2 separate regions of the Homo sapiens genome follow, and region 1 is linked to region 2. A link means that fine-mapping ties the variant in region 2 to the expression of a gene that starts in the linked region. Tissue or cell type: anterior cingulate cortex. Region 2 holds a variant in brackets; the other region holds the start of a gene. All regions are shown on one strand. Distances are between the middles of the regions.

The links. PIP is the estimated chance that this variant, and not a neighbour inherited with it, causes the effect.
Region 1: S100A10 starts here. The variant in region 2 is fine-mapped to the expression of S100A10 in anterior cingulate cortex (GTEx, PIP 0.92).

The regions. Positions count from the first base shown.
Region 1 is chr1:151,989,039-151,997,219 of GRCh38, forward strand. It overlaps S100A10 (S100 calcium binding protein A10), which reads right to left and starts at 4,821. Exons shown (of 3, transcript NM_002966.3): 1 at 4,714-4,821. RefSeq lists an enhancer at 2,861-4,060 and silencers at 4,629-4,928, 4,939-4,988, 5,119-5,248.
Region 2 is chr1:152,020,192-152,028,372 of GRCh38, forward strand. LOC105371442 (a long non-coding RNA gene) reads right to left here and starts at 7,397. Exons shown (of 3, transcript XR_001738235.2): 1 at 7,300-7,397; 2 at 6,449-6,628. It also overlaps the pseudogene NBPF18P. The variant G/C (reference allele first, on the strand shown) is at 4,025.

The DNA of each region.
Region 1 (8,181 bases), 31 kb before region 2:
AGGACAGAAGGAAAGTGCAGAATTAAGAAAGGGAATGCAGCAGGGTAAGGACCTCTAAATTTTAAAAAGGCTAATTTTAGGAGGTTCTAAGAAATACAAGTTGTCAGCTGAGGAAATCCTGGCCACCCTTGAGTATCTTCTTCAGGAGAGCAAGGTGAGTCTACCTCACACTGTGTGAGTGCTTAGGTCTGAAGTCACTCAGTCGCATGCCTCTCTTGCCCACAGCCATTACGAAGTGACGGAGCTTCCTTCTCTGAAGTTACATCCTTCTCCCACTTGGTCTTCCCCTCCCCTCCTCCCCCAGCGGTTTTATTCAGTGGATGGATTGTGAATATTGCAGCCAGCTGACTCCCTGTGTGTCCAGTAGGCCTTCTGCAATAAGGATGCAGAGGAGGGAGTAGCCAGGAGGTGAAAATAGCATTGAAAATCAGTGGAGAAGCCCTTGTCTCCTCAGCAACCAGTACCCCAAAGGGCACTGACCAGGGCCACAGCAAGGAACTCTGTTTTGGGGAAGGAGTTGCACACTGGCTTTAAAATAAGACAAAGGAAAGGGGGAAATGTTGTGATTAAAACTCTGTTCTCTTGGCTAGAGGATGAATCATGTAACTCTTGTCTGAGTGCAGCCAATGGTTGCCCAACTGAGTCAGCCCTGCCTGGCCCTCCGTTCTTGGGTGGGGCTTGCCTGGGCAGGGCTGTCTGCAGCACTGCTAGCTGCCAAAACTGAAGTTCTTCAGGGACTTCAATCTGGCATTTCCACCCTCACGTAGCCACTCTGCAAGCTCTATTCCTGGACAGATGTGGGCTTCCTGCATCCTGGTTAGACACATTTTGACAGGAGGGCCTTGGGGCTGGGGCTGAGGGGCTGCAGTGTCCTCTCTATCCCCAATAACGTACTCTTGCACCTGAAACATTCAATTTCATTTAATTGTTTACTTGTCTGCCTGAGATTTAAGCTTCTCTTGATTAAGAACTACAAATTATTCTGCTTTTATTCATGGAGCACTATATAACTGTTATGTGCATAAATGAACCACACAATCCCTTGGGCAGTAGCTGAGGTGCAGGTGTGATTACCCAGGACTAGGCTGAAAGCCTTGTAGCTCAGAGCTCAGGAGGACGATGTGAGAGCTGGGAAGGGCCAGGAAAGGGGCCCCAAAAGTGTTCAACTATGAACGGAACAGTAGATAGAGTACACAGGAGTGCACATTCCATACGCAAAAGGAAAAATATGTGTCCTGCTAAACAGGTCTAGTCAGAATGACATGACTGTGCTCCTTCTCTTCTAACACTTGCTATTTTCTCGTGTTTCATTCATCCCATCTTCTACTTTTTGCTTTTCTAGTGCTGCTATCTCACTGCTGAGCTCCACAGGATAATAACAGCCTTGCTGTCCACTCACCTTTTATTGAAGTATTCTAATCTGATGCCTATACATGCCCTCTACATGTTTGTCTGAGCAACAGGTCTTAAGAAGGGAGGCGGAGACATCTTTCTCTGCATAGTTTTCTCTATGGAAAACAATTCTGGACTCCACAAATTTAGTTACCTTAGGAGGAATTCAATTTTCCATTTTTGGTTCTCCCTCCCTGAGCACCTACTTTGAATGTCCCAGACATGGTGTTAGGCATGAGGGTGTTCACACACACATACACACATGCACACACACACAAAGCTCTCCATGGTGCTTGCCTTTGAGGAGTTCACCAGCTAATGGAATACTATTAAAGCATTTGGCCTGAATTCTAGTTATTTGTGTTTCTGTTTCTTTCCTCACTAGGTTGCAGGTTTTTTGAGCAGGGTCCCAATAGCCAGTGCCCCAGCCCTCATAGAGCCTGCTCGATGAATTGTTAAGAAATTGATAATGATGTATTTTGGTTGTCCTGCGAGTAGCAGACAAGCAGGAGTCCTCCTCAGAAAAGTGTCTGCTCCTGAAAAATCTCAAATGTTTGCTTTGGACCTATGCCCAGATCCCGGCTGCAGTTTCAAAGAGGACACTTCTGCAGAGTGAGTCGGACTTGCTTTGCTCCTCTGTGTCTTGTCCATACCCTAGTTTTCTTACAGCCCACCCAGAAAATAAACGGCAGGGTGTCAGTAAAAACAAACATCTGTTATTTAAAATATGTTTGAGGTTTCCTTCCTTTTGCTTTAGAAATTTTGGAGTTTTTAAAATTGAACCCAGAAGGCATTCTTAAATTTGATCTCTGAAGGGAATTCAGAAAAAATGAGTTGAAGCAATGGATCTGGATCCAGGCTGTCTCTCTCACCTCTCACCAACTAAAACTTGCCCACTAAAGAACTGGGCAGCAAAGGAACGTTTCAGATGCAATTCAATAGGAAGAAAGAACTTGGAAGAAACCTCCTTCAATCTAACCAACTACATCAATTTTTCCTTAAAGAATGCTTAGGCATCAGCCTAATCAGCCAACATAGCTACTGTCAAAACTGCTTTTAGTTAAATCCTTTGGTAGGATGGGTGGTATTTATTTAGTAAAGGGATAGAAAGTGCTGAAAATTGTTTAAAAGAAGTACATTCTTTCTTTTTGCTTTTGATGTGGATTCCTAAATTTGTTGAGTCCCCAGAAAAATGAGAAACTTAAGATGTTAAAATTTTAGTCCAGCTTTCTCAGCACTTTGAGTGCTAATTTATACATTATAATCCTGAAAGAATTCCATTGTTTCTCTCAACTTTACGCTTTAAAAGACTGGACTGTGTCCAAGGGTATACCAAGTGGGTTGTGCTCTACAAAAGTCACATTTTTTGAACTGTCAGTAGAAAGCAGGGAGGCACACAGTCTCAGCTCCACCCTGACCTCACTGGAGTGGCTGCTTAGGAGGCTGGCCAGCACACGGGAGGAAAGGGGCCTATATGATGTGTCGGAGAAAAGCTAGGAAGAGCATCACCCAGAAAGCAGGGTAAGACCCAAAAATTGCTTCATGCCCAGTAGACCAAAAAAATTGTAAGAACCTAGATAAGAAACTCCAAATGGTGGATCAAGGGCCACAGTGAAGAAACTATCCTCTGGCTGTGAAGGAACAAATACACCATTTGGAAGGGATGATTAAAGAGAAACTGGATAGGAATCTGTGGGGGCAGGGCCGATGAAGAAACTTCCAATAAGTTATATGAACTCATTCCCACTCCAACCCCTGGCATTATCTTTTGCAATTTGCTGAAACATGTTGGAGGCAAAGATCACCGACTGGGTGTTTCCATGAGCCTGGCCTCACCTAAAACGCACAACATAAAACTCCATTCCTGGAGACTGAAACTCAAGCTTCTGGGGAAAAATATCCGCAACAACTGCAAACCTCTTAGCGGGAAAAGCTACCTCCCAAGTAAGGCTGAGGCAGGCTGCCAGGCGCATACTGGCCGATAACGAAAAGCGGTCTCGCCAAGGCCCTGCAGATCTAATTACTGCCCTCACCGGCAGTTCAGTCGAGAAACCTCTCCTGCAGACTGGCAGCCAGACCAGGTGTGACTCACTTCCTCTTGGAAAATGCCCTCTGAGATGGCACAGTTCTCCTTTTCCTTCAGGGAGTGTTCTGTCCAAACCATCCACCGAGAGTATCTGCAACCGGCCACACCCACATGGTCTCACAGCTGAGTCACAGGCCTCAGACCACTGGGAGAATCCTGGAGCCCTTTGTGCTAACCACGCCCTGCAGAAGCTCCCGCAGAGACGGAACTGGGTGGGGGCAGAAAACGGGGTGGGCTTAATGCATCCCAGAATCTGGCTTAGGGCTCCCCTGTGCTGGCCTGGCTTGGAGCGCTCTGCATTCCACCCCAGCCAACAAGGCAGAGCTCCTGGTTTCACTTAGGCAGAGCTGGACTGAGGCTGGACAGGCAGCAGTGTCCACGGCTAGGGGCAGCGCCATTCCTTCGGCCAAAGCACAGGTGGTGAACCAAGTACCAAAGGCACGTCTGTCTGTTTCACTGCACCGGGCCAAATTAATCTATGATTGGAAGATCCTTCATCAAGCCTGCTCTTCCTCCATCTCTTTCTGGTTCCACTTATTAAGACAGCAAGGGAACCCTTTCAGTAGAGAAACCACGTCACACAGGGCCCTCTCCCACAAACCCCAGCCAAACTGCTGTAGAAAGAAAACAAGTGGACCTCCCTCCCTCAGCAGGAAGACCCTTTCCGTCGAGCAGACAACAGGAAGCCCCGACCAGAAACGCCTGTTTGGCCGACGGACTAAGGGTTACGGAAGGGACGCCCCAGCTGCCTACTCGTCCTACCCGCGCCTACTTGGGCGGTACAGCCGGGAGCAGGCTACGAACATGCAGACCCGGCCTGCGAGCGGAACCCACCAAGAAACACGCCAGCCAGGGCAGGGGCGTGTAGGAGGGATTCGGTAACCCGAGAGACGAGTGGGAAAGTAGGAAAGGTGGGAGTAAAGCAACGCAAACATAAAGGGAGGAGGGAAGAGGTTCAGGCGCACCAATACCACGGTCCCCTCCTAAAGAACAAGTGCCCCCTCCTCTGGTCCGCGTGGGTCTGGGGGCGGCCGCGCCCGGGCCGGGGAGGGGCGCTGCTGGCCTCGTTTGGGTGTGGCCCGGAGCACTGAGCAGCGGATTCCCCACCAGCCGCTCCCCGCCCAGCCCCGCGGTGCTCCGGACGCCCCGCGAAGCCGGGTGCAGGGTTTTCCCCGGGCAGCAGGTCCGGGCCTGGGGACTACCCAGGAGGGGCGCGTGGGCCGGGCGGAGCTCACCTTGGCCGAGGCGCGGCGGACGCTGGGCGAGCTGGGCGAGCTGGACGCGGGGCGGAGAGGCGAGCGCGGCGGGCTGTGCGCCTTCCTTAGTACGTGCGGCGGGTGGGTAGAGGGAGGCGGCGCGGGAGCGGGAGGAGCCTGGCGGGCGCTCGGCAGGGCGCTCCCCCAGCCCTGTCTCCTCCCCCTCTTCCTGCCCCCGACTCCCCCGACCCCGGGCGCGCGGCCCACGCCCTGCCCTCGCTCCCGGACCCGCCTCGCAGAGGCCTCGCCCGCCCCAGACAGAGCGTTCTTGTAAACTTCTCTTCAGTAGAAACGGTCCTGCTCTCGAATATTTCAGGGCATCCCCACCCTGAGCCTGCCCTTCCTCTCGGGTTTGGTTTTAGAAAGTGTACAAATCAAAGAACCCGGCCGTCCTGCGGGTGGGGCACGCTGGCGCAGAACCAGAGGTAACCGGCTCTGCGGCCACCTACGGGTCTAGGAATTACTTGCTGGATGACCCTGCAGGGAGTGGCACGTGGAGTCCTATCGACCTCAGAGGCACTATCAGATTAGCCCTAGGAGGTCCGTCTGGGGGTCTCGGCGGCCTGCGCCAGTGGAGGGGCGGCACCTCCCCAGAAGCCGGGCTTCCCGCCCCACCGGCCCGCGAGGTGCCGCAGGGAGGGTGCGGTTTGGCTTGTCAGCACCCAGGGGCGTCACAAACCCTTTGTTGAACAGGGGATTTACCCCTTTGTGTGGCGTCACTTGATCAATAGTTCAGTTTCAGTGTGGCTAATAGTGTTAAAAACTGGCCGGGCGCGGTGGCTCACGCCTGTAATCCCAACACTTTGGGAGGCCGAGGCGGGCGGATCACCTCAGGTCAGGAGTTCAACACCAGCTTAGCCAACATGGTGAAACCTTGTCTCTACTGATACAAAAATTAGCCGGGAGTGGTGATGCGCGCCTGTAATCCCAGGAGACTGAGGCATGAGAATCGCTTGAACCTGGGAGACAGAGGTTGCAGTGAGCCGAGATCGCACCACTGCACTCCAGCCTGGGTGACAGAGTGAGACTCTGTCTCAAAAAAAAAAAAAAAAAAGAAAAAAGAAAAAAAGAAAAGAAAAAGGTTAAAAACTAAGTTTCCAAGGCAGTATGCTGTGGTCCTTGAAAAGTCCTTTAGAAGAATTTTCTGGAATAAATTTAGAGAAAACCTAAGTGTTTCCTAGGGGATGCTTACCAACTCCTCGCCCCTCCCCCGCCCGCCCTCTTTTATTTTAATTGTGACTCAGGGTTAAATACAAACTACTAGCAGCTGTTGGTGGAAAAGAGCCCAATCCCAAACTCTGGGGTTTTCCTTTGTTCCCAAGGGAGGCCTTGGGAGGAATGAATGATCCTAAAGGAATGAGCAGACCTGGGGAATCCTCCAAGTGCCACCTCTGACTAATATTGGCTGTTGCCAGGAAAACCCAACTTGGATTTCAGCTATTACTTTCCGTGCAACCCTGGTGCTGACTATTCAAGGGGACAGCTCTTCAAGATCTTCCTGTATACAGTACTTCCCAGTCCCCAGGTCACAGTCACCAGTGGAGGAAATCTCGGATCCCTTTTGTTGCAGGGATTGCAATGCGACTGGGTTTAGAATGGGAATGCCTGGGTTTGCGTACCCCTACTCATCTGATTTCTTCATCTGGTCCACAGACCTTAGGAGTGCTTTAGTGTATGTGGTAGGCCTGGGAATTCAGGGATTAGAGAATCAGTCTCTTTCTCTGAAGAGTTCCAAGTATTGGGCGTTAGATAAGCAAACAATTAAAATCCAGTGTGCTTAGTGAATGGTAGAGGATACTATTGGATACTAGGAGAACACTGAGGAGGGGCTTCCAAGTCCTCTTGGAGTGGTCACAGAATAATTTCTGCAGGAAGCAACATTGGGTAGAAATTTAAAAACAACAATAACACTTATTGTAACTTTTTAATCTGTACAAAGATTCCATTCTTAGAAGGCTTGGAAAATATATCAATGTATAAAAAATGATTTATAAATACATGAGCCAAAGATAAACATTTTCATATTTCTAGTCTTTTTATGCATATGTAACAAATATTTGCATAATTGTGATCATACTGATTATAAAATTAAGTACAGTCATTCACTGCATAACAGTGTTTGAGCCAACGATGGATCATGTATTCAGCAGTGGTTCCATAAGATTATAATAGAGCTAAAAAAATTCCAGTTGCCTAGTGACCTTGTAGCTGTCTAGCGCAATACTTTACTCATGTGTTTGTGGTGATGCTGGTGTAAACAAACTACTGTGCTGCCAGTTGTATAAAAATATAGCACATACCAATTATGTGTAGTATGCAATACTTGATAATGGTAATAAATGACTGTTACTGCATTATGTATTTACTACACTATACTTTTCATCATTATTTTAGAGTGTATTCCTTCTACTTATTAAAAAAACAGTAAAACTTAAAAAAAAGTTTAAAAAACAGCCTCAGGCAGGTCTTTCAGGGGGTATTCCAGAAGAAGTCATTGTTATCACAGGAGATGTGTGTTTTTGCCCTGGAGACCTTTCAGTGGGACCAGATGTGGAAGTGAAAGACAGTTATATTGATGATCCTGACCCTGTGCAGGTCTAGGCTAATACGTGTGTTTGTGTCTTAGTTTTTTTTTTTTTTTTTGTGTGTGTGTGTCTTAGTTTTTAACAAAAAACTTAAAAAAAAATAAAAATTTTAAAAATAGAAAAAACTTACATAAGAAGGATATAAAGAAAGAAAATATTTTCTACAGTTGTATAATGTGTGCTTTAAGCTAAGTGTTATTACAAAAGAGTCAAACATTTAAAGAATTTACAAGTTAGGCTGGGCGTGGTAGCTCACACCTGTAATCCCAGCACTTTGGGAGGCCGAGGCGGGCGGATCACGAGGTCAACAGGTCAAGACCATCCTGGCCAACGTGGTGAAACCCCATCTTACAGAGAAAGAACTAGCCGGGCGTGGTGGCACGCACCTGTACTCCCAGCTGCTTGGGAGGCTGAGGCAGGAGAATCGCTTGAACCCGGGAGGCGGAGGTTGCAGTGAGCCGAGATTGTGGCAGTGCACTCCAGCCTGGAGACAGAGTGAGACTCCATTTCAAAAAAAAAAAAAAAAAGAAAAAGGAAAGAAAAAGGAATTTCCAAGTTTATAACGTAAATTTACAGTAATCTAAGGTTAATTTGTTATTATTATTTTGGTTTTTTGAGACAGGGGCTCCCTCTGTCGCCCAGGCTAGAGCATAGCAGTGTGATCTCTGTTCACTGCAACCTCCGCCTCCCGGGTTCAAGTGCTTCTTGTCCCTCAGCCACTCGAGTACCTGGGATTACAGGCATGTCCCACAGCGCCTGGCTAATTTTTGTTTTTTTTAGTAGAGATGAGGTTTCACCATGTTGACCGGGCTGGTCTCGAACTCTTGGCCTCATGTGATTCACCCATCTTGGCCTCCCAAAG
Region 2 (8,181 bases):
CATGTCTAGCCTTCCACTGAGGCAGGCGCGTCTGTCTTTTCTCAGAGTATGAAGAATTCAAAGACCTCATAAAATCTATGCTGAGGGATGAGCTGCAATTCAAGGACGAGAAGCTTGCAGAGCAGCTTGGGCAAGCTGAGGAGCTCAGGTGAGGCGGCCCCGTGGGGGCAGGCAGGTGGGCAGGTATGTGAATCTCTGAAGTACAGCAGCTCAGCCGGGAGAAATAAGAGCTAAGCTGGGCCAGGGGAAGGGCAGGAATTGCCATGGCAGGCTCACGACACCCAAATATTTATCAAACAGAGAACAAGGATAATAATAAGTTATGAGTTGCAGTTGTTTCTCAGAACCTTGTTTTCTCTTTTTCAAACAAGTAACTGTTGAGGTGAAACTTGCATAATGCAAAATTAACCAAAGGAGTGGAAACCACCCAGCAGCATTCAGTATACTCAAAATGGTGTGCCATCATCACCCCACTTACCCTTAGTCAGAATCACCTCCTGACGGACTGCGGCTTCTCATTCTTTCACTCAATCAGTGTTGCCTTCTCGACCCTGTCATTCTTTTCTTCTTTCGTCTTTTCAATTTGCCCCATCTGCACCTAGCCTCATTTCTGTACCTGGCTTTGTATCTAGTCACCACAAAATACCTTATGTGTATTTTCACATGGAAATGTCGATGGCCAAAGTGAGGAATTGAAAGGATGTCTTTTTGAAACTGATTTAGAAAGACCTACTTTTGTTTACAGAAGAGAAATATGAATGCAACATTGTCGAGGATATTTCAGTTGCACTCTCTGATATAGAGGAAGCCTGTAAAAAAAATTCTTTTTGTCTTGGCCACAGGCATTTCCCCAAACATGTGCTGACCTTCTGCTTGGAGGTCTCCTTGAGGACATTGTCTCAGAGATCTCTGTTGCAATATTAGAACTGATCACTCATCCCTTTCCATTATTAAATTTTCTCTACTGTCTCACCTTAGGCAATATAAAGTCCTAGTTCACTCTCAGGCACGAGAGCTGGCCTGGTTAAGGAAGAGATTACAGGAAGGGAGAGATGCCTCCCGCTCATTGAATCAGCATCTCCAGGCCCTCCTCACTCCGGATGAGCCTGACAACTCCCAGGGGCAGGATATCTGAGAGCAGCTGGCTGAGGGCTGCAGGCTGACAGAGAACCTCATCCACAAACTCAGCCCAGGTAAGGTGGCCACAGGCCCTGATGACACAAAACCCCAGGCTTATGAGAGACTCCAGACCTCCATACCTCCACAATGACAGTTGTATTGGTGGTGTTTTTTTCCACTAAACATATGTGGCCATGACATGACCAGGACTTCCTGGGTAACAACAGAGATGGGAAACCCATGGGATTGGTGGTCACAGTATTGTAAATGTCCCTCCTTCCTTGATGGAAGGTGGTCTTTGGAACAGGAGGCAGCATCTCTCCAGTTTTAAAGGACAAGAAGGAGGCTGTGACAGGAGGGCGCTTGTTAGAGTGAAAAGAGCTCTGGACTAAGCATGGAGGTTCCCAGGCTCTATCTTCAGCAACGTCCTTCGTAACTGTCGGTGAGTGATTGATTTATCCTTCCTGGGTTTCTCTCTCTCCATCTGCAAAGGCCGGCAAATTGTCTCTTGCAAGTGTCTTTAGCATTCAAATGTGGGAACACTTAACGACTGCTTTTCAAAATGAGATGAAGCTCCTTGCCGTGTGGTGTTGGAGAAGGCACTTGATGTGGGGGCATTTGGTGGTAGGAGTGCTTCAGACTGGAGTACTCTCCATGGAGAGAATGTCCCTGAATAACACAGCAGAAGCCACTTGGTGGGCCTGTGAAGTCCCCTGATGGACAGAGGACTGTGGGACAAGTTTGTCCTCTCCTAAGAGAAAGAATTAGTTTCGAAATGTGAACTGTGACAGGACACCAAGCCTGTGCCTGGGAATCAGATCTGTGGCAGGATGGCGGAGACAGCTGCCAAAGTCCAGAGAGAGGCTGGACAAGTCTCCAGGGATATGGGGACCAAAAGATGTTTTCAATATTTGGCCACATCTTGATGGTGGCCCTCCAGATCAGAAATGCATTGCCTGATGGATTAGGAAACTGTGCCAGGGCATTTTGTTAAAGATAAAACATGAGAGCTTTCAGTTGAATGGTGACCCATGCCTAGATGTTCATGTGTCTGCACACATTGGGCTGACTATGCTTGCAGAATGTGAAGTGAGAAATATCTGAATGAACATTCCTGTATTTACAGAAAATGATGAAGATGTGGATGACGATGTTTACGTTGAGGAGGCTGAGAAAGTGCGGGAATCACGTGCCCCCAGGTAACACTGAATAATCAGGAGCAATAATGGGTGGTAACATATGAAAAAGATCTAGGAGGCACACTCTCTCTGGCGTCTACATTGGGCCAAAAGCCTGCATTCCCCTGGCCACAATATGTTAAATTCAACCCAGCTTAGACACAGGGTGTGGCAGCTGTTATGGTTCTCTGTGTGTGCTGAGTGTCATGTCTGTACCATACAGGGATAGCTGAGTCTCCATCCTCCTCAGCTCCTATCTGCCCAGTGCAATGAACACCAGCTGCTGTCTTCCTCTTTGGCTCCCATAGCAGCCATGCTCTGTTGCAGAGAGTGGAGGAGTGCCTGTTCCCTCTTAAAGGGAACCTCCTGTTTGCTTTCTGGGACCACTCTCTTATGCTTCCTGTCAAAACTAGCTAGGACTCCCTGAGGTCCAATCCCTCTCTGTTTAATCTTCTGTTATGTCTGTGTCACCTGGCTCATCAGGGAGGTGCGAAGCCTGAAGAGAAGGAATTGATGAAATGATCATACAGATATGTATATTGCATATATCTATGCAATATACATATTGCATCAATATCCCATGATATTGCCGGCTCAATGAGGACAGAGTCCTCTCTCTATTATGATTTGGATTTGAAGGGAAGATGCCATGGGTCCTAAACATCGCAGCATGACCAGCGTGTGCTGCCCACGACCTGCAGTGCCATGGTCAGGTGGAAGTCATTTTACTTCAGTAGAGGACAGTGTTCTCTTCTGACCTTTTCCTCAGTGGCTAGATCTGTATCTCTCTCTCTCTTCTCCCATCTGCCCTCCGTTCCCTGCCCCGCTTTGTTTTTTCTCTCTGTTCCCACCCTGCTGGCCCCTTCCACCTGTTTTCTTTTCTTCAGCTTTCATCGTTCACCCCCCTCTGCCCACCCATATGCCCCAGGCTAAGTCCCCTGCACATTCCTGGGGAGGGGCGTAGATGTGTATGGTTTTAGGCAGTGCCCTCTAGATGTGTCCATGATGGGGAAACATGGCTCAGCTGCCAGTATAATGCTTTAAAAGAGTGGCCACTTTTGAAGGCCTTTTACATCTAGGATCCTCTATGACTTAAAATATATGGGCCACATTGGAATTCCTTGTTCCCCAGGACCTTGCAGTGGATGCCTTCTTTCACTGAGCATTCACAGGGTGCCTATTAGGTGCCAGGCCCTGCTCTGGGCTAGGGGCTCCATTGTGAGCAATCCTCAGTTCATTGCCACATGGAGCCCACCTCTGCAGGCATCAAGAGGGTGGGGCCGTCAACCACATCTACCAGTGCTAAGCATCAAGGACAATGAAGGCTGAGAATAGCCTGCTGGATTTGGCTATATGGTAGGTAAGGACTTGTTTGATTCTGGGGAAAGCAATTTCAGCAATGGGGAGGAGAAAGCAGCCTTGTTGCAGGGAGCTGAGGATGCTTAGTAGTGAGGAGATGAGGAGAACGGTGAGCTAGCATTTATGAAGCAACCTTTGCTTCCTATGTGATAATTACACTTTTCCCAACTTTCAGATTTGTGTTTCTTCCCTTGCCAGAAGTTAGTCTCTTTACAGACTGGACTTGCAACTTTCCGGAGTCATTGTCTTTGCTTGCATTCCTACCAGAATCCCTAGTGACTCTGCGGATCATGTTTAATGATAATGTTGACACTAAGTCATTGTGAGGGTAAAATATGAATCTGGTAACAGAAACGTTTTTCTCGGTG[G/C]AGAGAGGTGGGGCCGGGAACCAGGACTACTGATGCTTCTCTCTGCCCCCACTGTCTAACTTTACAGGCAGCTCAAATCACTCAGAATCCAGTTTGCGGCCAGTGCAGACTTGCCTCTCCCTCCCAGTCTTCTTTCTTGGTGGTGACTGGGAGAGATTTAGGAGATTAGGGAGGGCCAAGAAACAAAGCATGAATTATCACGGTTGCTGCACAGGTGTGGTCCTCTCAGTCTCTCTGCCTGAATTCCCAACACATCTCTCACCAGGTTGCTGGATGGTACAATAGGGTCATTGTAAGGTGGGTGGGTGCAGTGAGTCAATGAAGTCTTCCTGAGGTGCAGGGGGGCAGGGAGGGATCCTCTCCCCTATAGCCGGAGCTGGGTCACAAATTGGTGGTGGAATGCCCAGCTTCAGGGTCCATTTGCACGGCTGTATATTTCAATTATACACTTGGTTCTTTTTTTATATATATATACTTTTGTTCTTGTTTTATGCATTTGATCTATTGATTTATTTGACCATTTTAAACACACTCATGCTAACATCCTTCCAGATTGCTCTCCCTCTTGTTACTCAGTGTGAAGTCTCTAGTCTGTTGTATGTACTTGTCATCCCTCGTGTGCCTGTGAGCCTATTCTAAGTGTATTTATCTCCTGTGGACATCCTCCAAATGTCTGGAGGCATCTCCACGAGGTGGTTTTGCATTTGTCTAGGGTTTTATGGCGCTTACAACTCTGGGGTAGTTTTTGTTTTATTTCTTTAATAGCATGTGTTTGAACCCCATGCCTTCTGGGAACACAGGTGCAGTGCTCTGATTTCTCTCAGATGACTTTGCCTCGCTCCAGGGCTCATTCTGTGTCTTGAGAGGTGGTGGACTGAGCTTTCCAGTCTCCATCAGTGACAGGGCAGCTCTTTAGCAGCTCTCTCTTTTCACTAAGAGTTCAGTTCTAGTTCTCCACCATGGCCTGGGCCACGTGGCCTCCGCTCTGGGGCACCGTGACAGCTATCAGTTCCCTTTGTGCTTCCGGCACCTGAATAATTCTCTTTCTGCCTTTTAATTGACCAAGTATTTTAACTTTTTGAGGGGAAGGGGAAGATTCTATGTTATCCAGCATTATTTGCGGTAGGAAAGGGGCTTTCTATATCTGCTGCATACTAAATTTTGGCAGAAGTCCTACCACCATGGCCCAAATCTCCATCAAAAGAGATAGATATTTGCTTGATTTTTTTCTTCTTGTTTTTCTTCATTAAAAAAATGTACATTGGATTTAGCTATGATTTCTTGGATATGACACCAAAGCCACAGGAAATGTAAGAAAAAAACATATAAATTGGACTTCATCACAACGAAAAACTTTTGTGCATCAAAGGACACTATGAATAGAGTGAAAAGGCGACCCACAGAATGGTAGAAAATATTTGCAAATCACATATCTAATAAGGGCTTAATACCCAGAATATAAAAAGAACTCCTACAACTCAACAAAAACCAAACAACCCAATACAAAATGGGCAAAAGAATCAAATAGACATTTTTCCAAAGAAGATATACAAATGGCCAATAAGCACATTGAAAAGATGCTTAACATCACCAATCTTTAGGAAAATGTGAAAGGAAACCAAAATGAGATACTATTTCACATTCATTAGGATGGCTATTATTTTAAAAAGAAGAAAATAGCAAGTGTTGGTGAGTATGTGGAGACTTTGGAAACCTTGTAAGCATTGCTGGTGGGAATATAAAGTGGTGCTGCCACTGTGGAAAGATGTATGGTGGTTCCTCAAAAACTAAAAATAGAATTACCATATGATCCAGCAATTCTATTTCTGGGTTGTATTCCCGGAGACTTAAATCATTATTTATACACCTGCATTCATTGTAGCACTATGCACAATAACAAAAGGTGGAAGCAACCCAAGTGTCCATCAATAGATGAATGGATAAACAAAATGTGGCACACACACACACATACACACAAATATACACACAATGGACTATTATTCAGCCCTGAAATGGAAGGAAATTTTGACATATGCAACAACATAAATGAATCTTGAAGACATTATGCTAAGTGAAATAAGTCAGACACAAAAAGACAAATGTTGTATAATTCCACTGACAGGAGGTACCTAGAGTAGTCAGATGAATAGAGACAGAAAGTAGAATGATGGTGACCAGGAGGTAGGTGAGGGGAGAGAGGGAAGTTATTGTTTAATGGATGCAGACTTTCAGTTTGGGAAGATGGAAACGTTATGGAGGTATTGGTGGTGATGTTTATACAATGTGAATATACTTAATGCTACTAAAATGTACACTTAAAAAATGGTAACAGTGTTAAATTTTTATGTTCTGTATATTTAACCATAATAAAAAAATTTAAAATTTTCAATAACTCAAGAAAATACACACACAAAAAAAGTCTACCTGAATTAGTGTTGTCACTTTACTCTGTGTTCCCCTTGGTGGCAGGAGTAGCCATGCGGTAGAAGAATACCAATCTCAGCTTTCTGCAGTGTGCTGGATATTCTGTTTGCTCCTCCAGCTCCACTTTTGGTGCTTCTCTGCCCAGCTCAGACTTCCAGTAGGGTGGACCAACAGGAGGCACTTGCAGGCGATCAGAAGGTGGGAAGAGAGAGAAATCAATATTTATTCCCCGGGGTCCCTCCTGCCAGGCTGTGGTTTGACAGTGGCTGTATTTCTACATCTAAGGCCACAGCATCCGTGAGTGGCCCCTCTTCCTGGGCTATATGGCTCTTGAATTCCAATAATTTCTCCCTTGCCAGTCAGGCTGAGAGGTGGGAACAGCATCCTAATTTTGCTAGTCCTGGTGCTTTGCCATCTCTTGTTATTTATCTTATCTCTTACATCTTCATAAATAGTGCATTCCTTAAATTCTCTTCAGTGACCCGTTTGAGTGTGCATGTGTTTCCTGTGGGAACCCAGACTGATATACATGGTATGTCCCACATCTGGTATAGCATTCTCTTATCGCTTATTCATGTATCATATATTTTTTTCATTCAACAATTTTTTTTTGCTACTATATGCTGGGTACCACATTAAGTCCTAGCAATACAAAGATGCCTTTAATTAGGTCTCTGTTCTTGAGCTCAAAGTCAAGTTAGAAAAGACAGACAAGTAAGAACACTGTAAGTAGAGTGGCAAGTGCTATGATAGAGGCAAGAATGGAGTGCTCTGGAGCATAGAATAAGAGCATTAAAATCAGCTTTGGATAGGGGTCTTAGGAAAGGCCTTCTTGGGGAGATGATACTTACACTGCTCTACAGGGCAAGTAGAAACAGGTGGAAAGGCGGCCAAGGCCTTTCAGGGCAGCAAGAAGAGCGTGTGTCAAAGCAAAGAGGCACATCACTGTGACATCAGTTCTAGCCTTGGTTGGCAAGGTGGGCAGGGAGCAGACCACAAAGGCTCTTGAGTGCTCCAGGGAATCCTGTATATTCAGAAGGTCCAATGCCTGGTTTTACACATGGGAGCGATACCAGAACATTTGCCTTTAAAAACTCTCTTTGATCACACGGTGGAGAAAGGGATGGAAGAGGTCCAACTGGACAGGGAGAAGCTTAAGAGAGTTTATTGCAAAATGGTAGAGGTCCTCTTTTCTAAAGGGTAGGGACCTGTAGTTGGTTTGGCTAACTTAAAAAAATTGGTGAAAATGGATATTTATAAAAAGGATATTTAAAATATTTGCTTTAACTTAAAACATGTATATTTATCAAAATTTTGCTATATTATCTTTCTTGCATAAATCACACTCACAGTGGATTTTAGTACAATTGTAGCTACCTCTCAGATGTGTCCCTTAATTCATTAGTGGCACAAGAAGGAAAAAATCAGTAGTCATTAAGTCTCCATATTATTCCTTTAGCAGGTGCACCCTGTATTTTTTTTTAAAAAGTGTCACTATCCCCAAAAAACAGTGAGCTAGGGAAGAGATGGAAAAATATCAGGCACCCTACTGGTCTATTTGCTACTTTACCAAGAAATCGGGCCGGGCACGGTGGCTCATGCCTGTAATTCCAGAACTTTGGGAGGCCAAGAAGGGCGGATCACGAGGTCAAGAGTTCGAGACCAGCCTGGGCAACAAGGTGAAACCCCGTCTCTATTAAGAATACAAAAATTAGTCGGGCATGGTGGCGCAT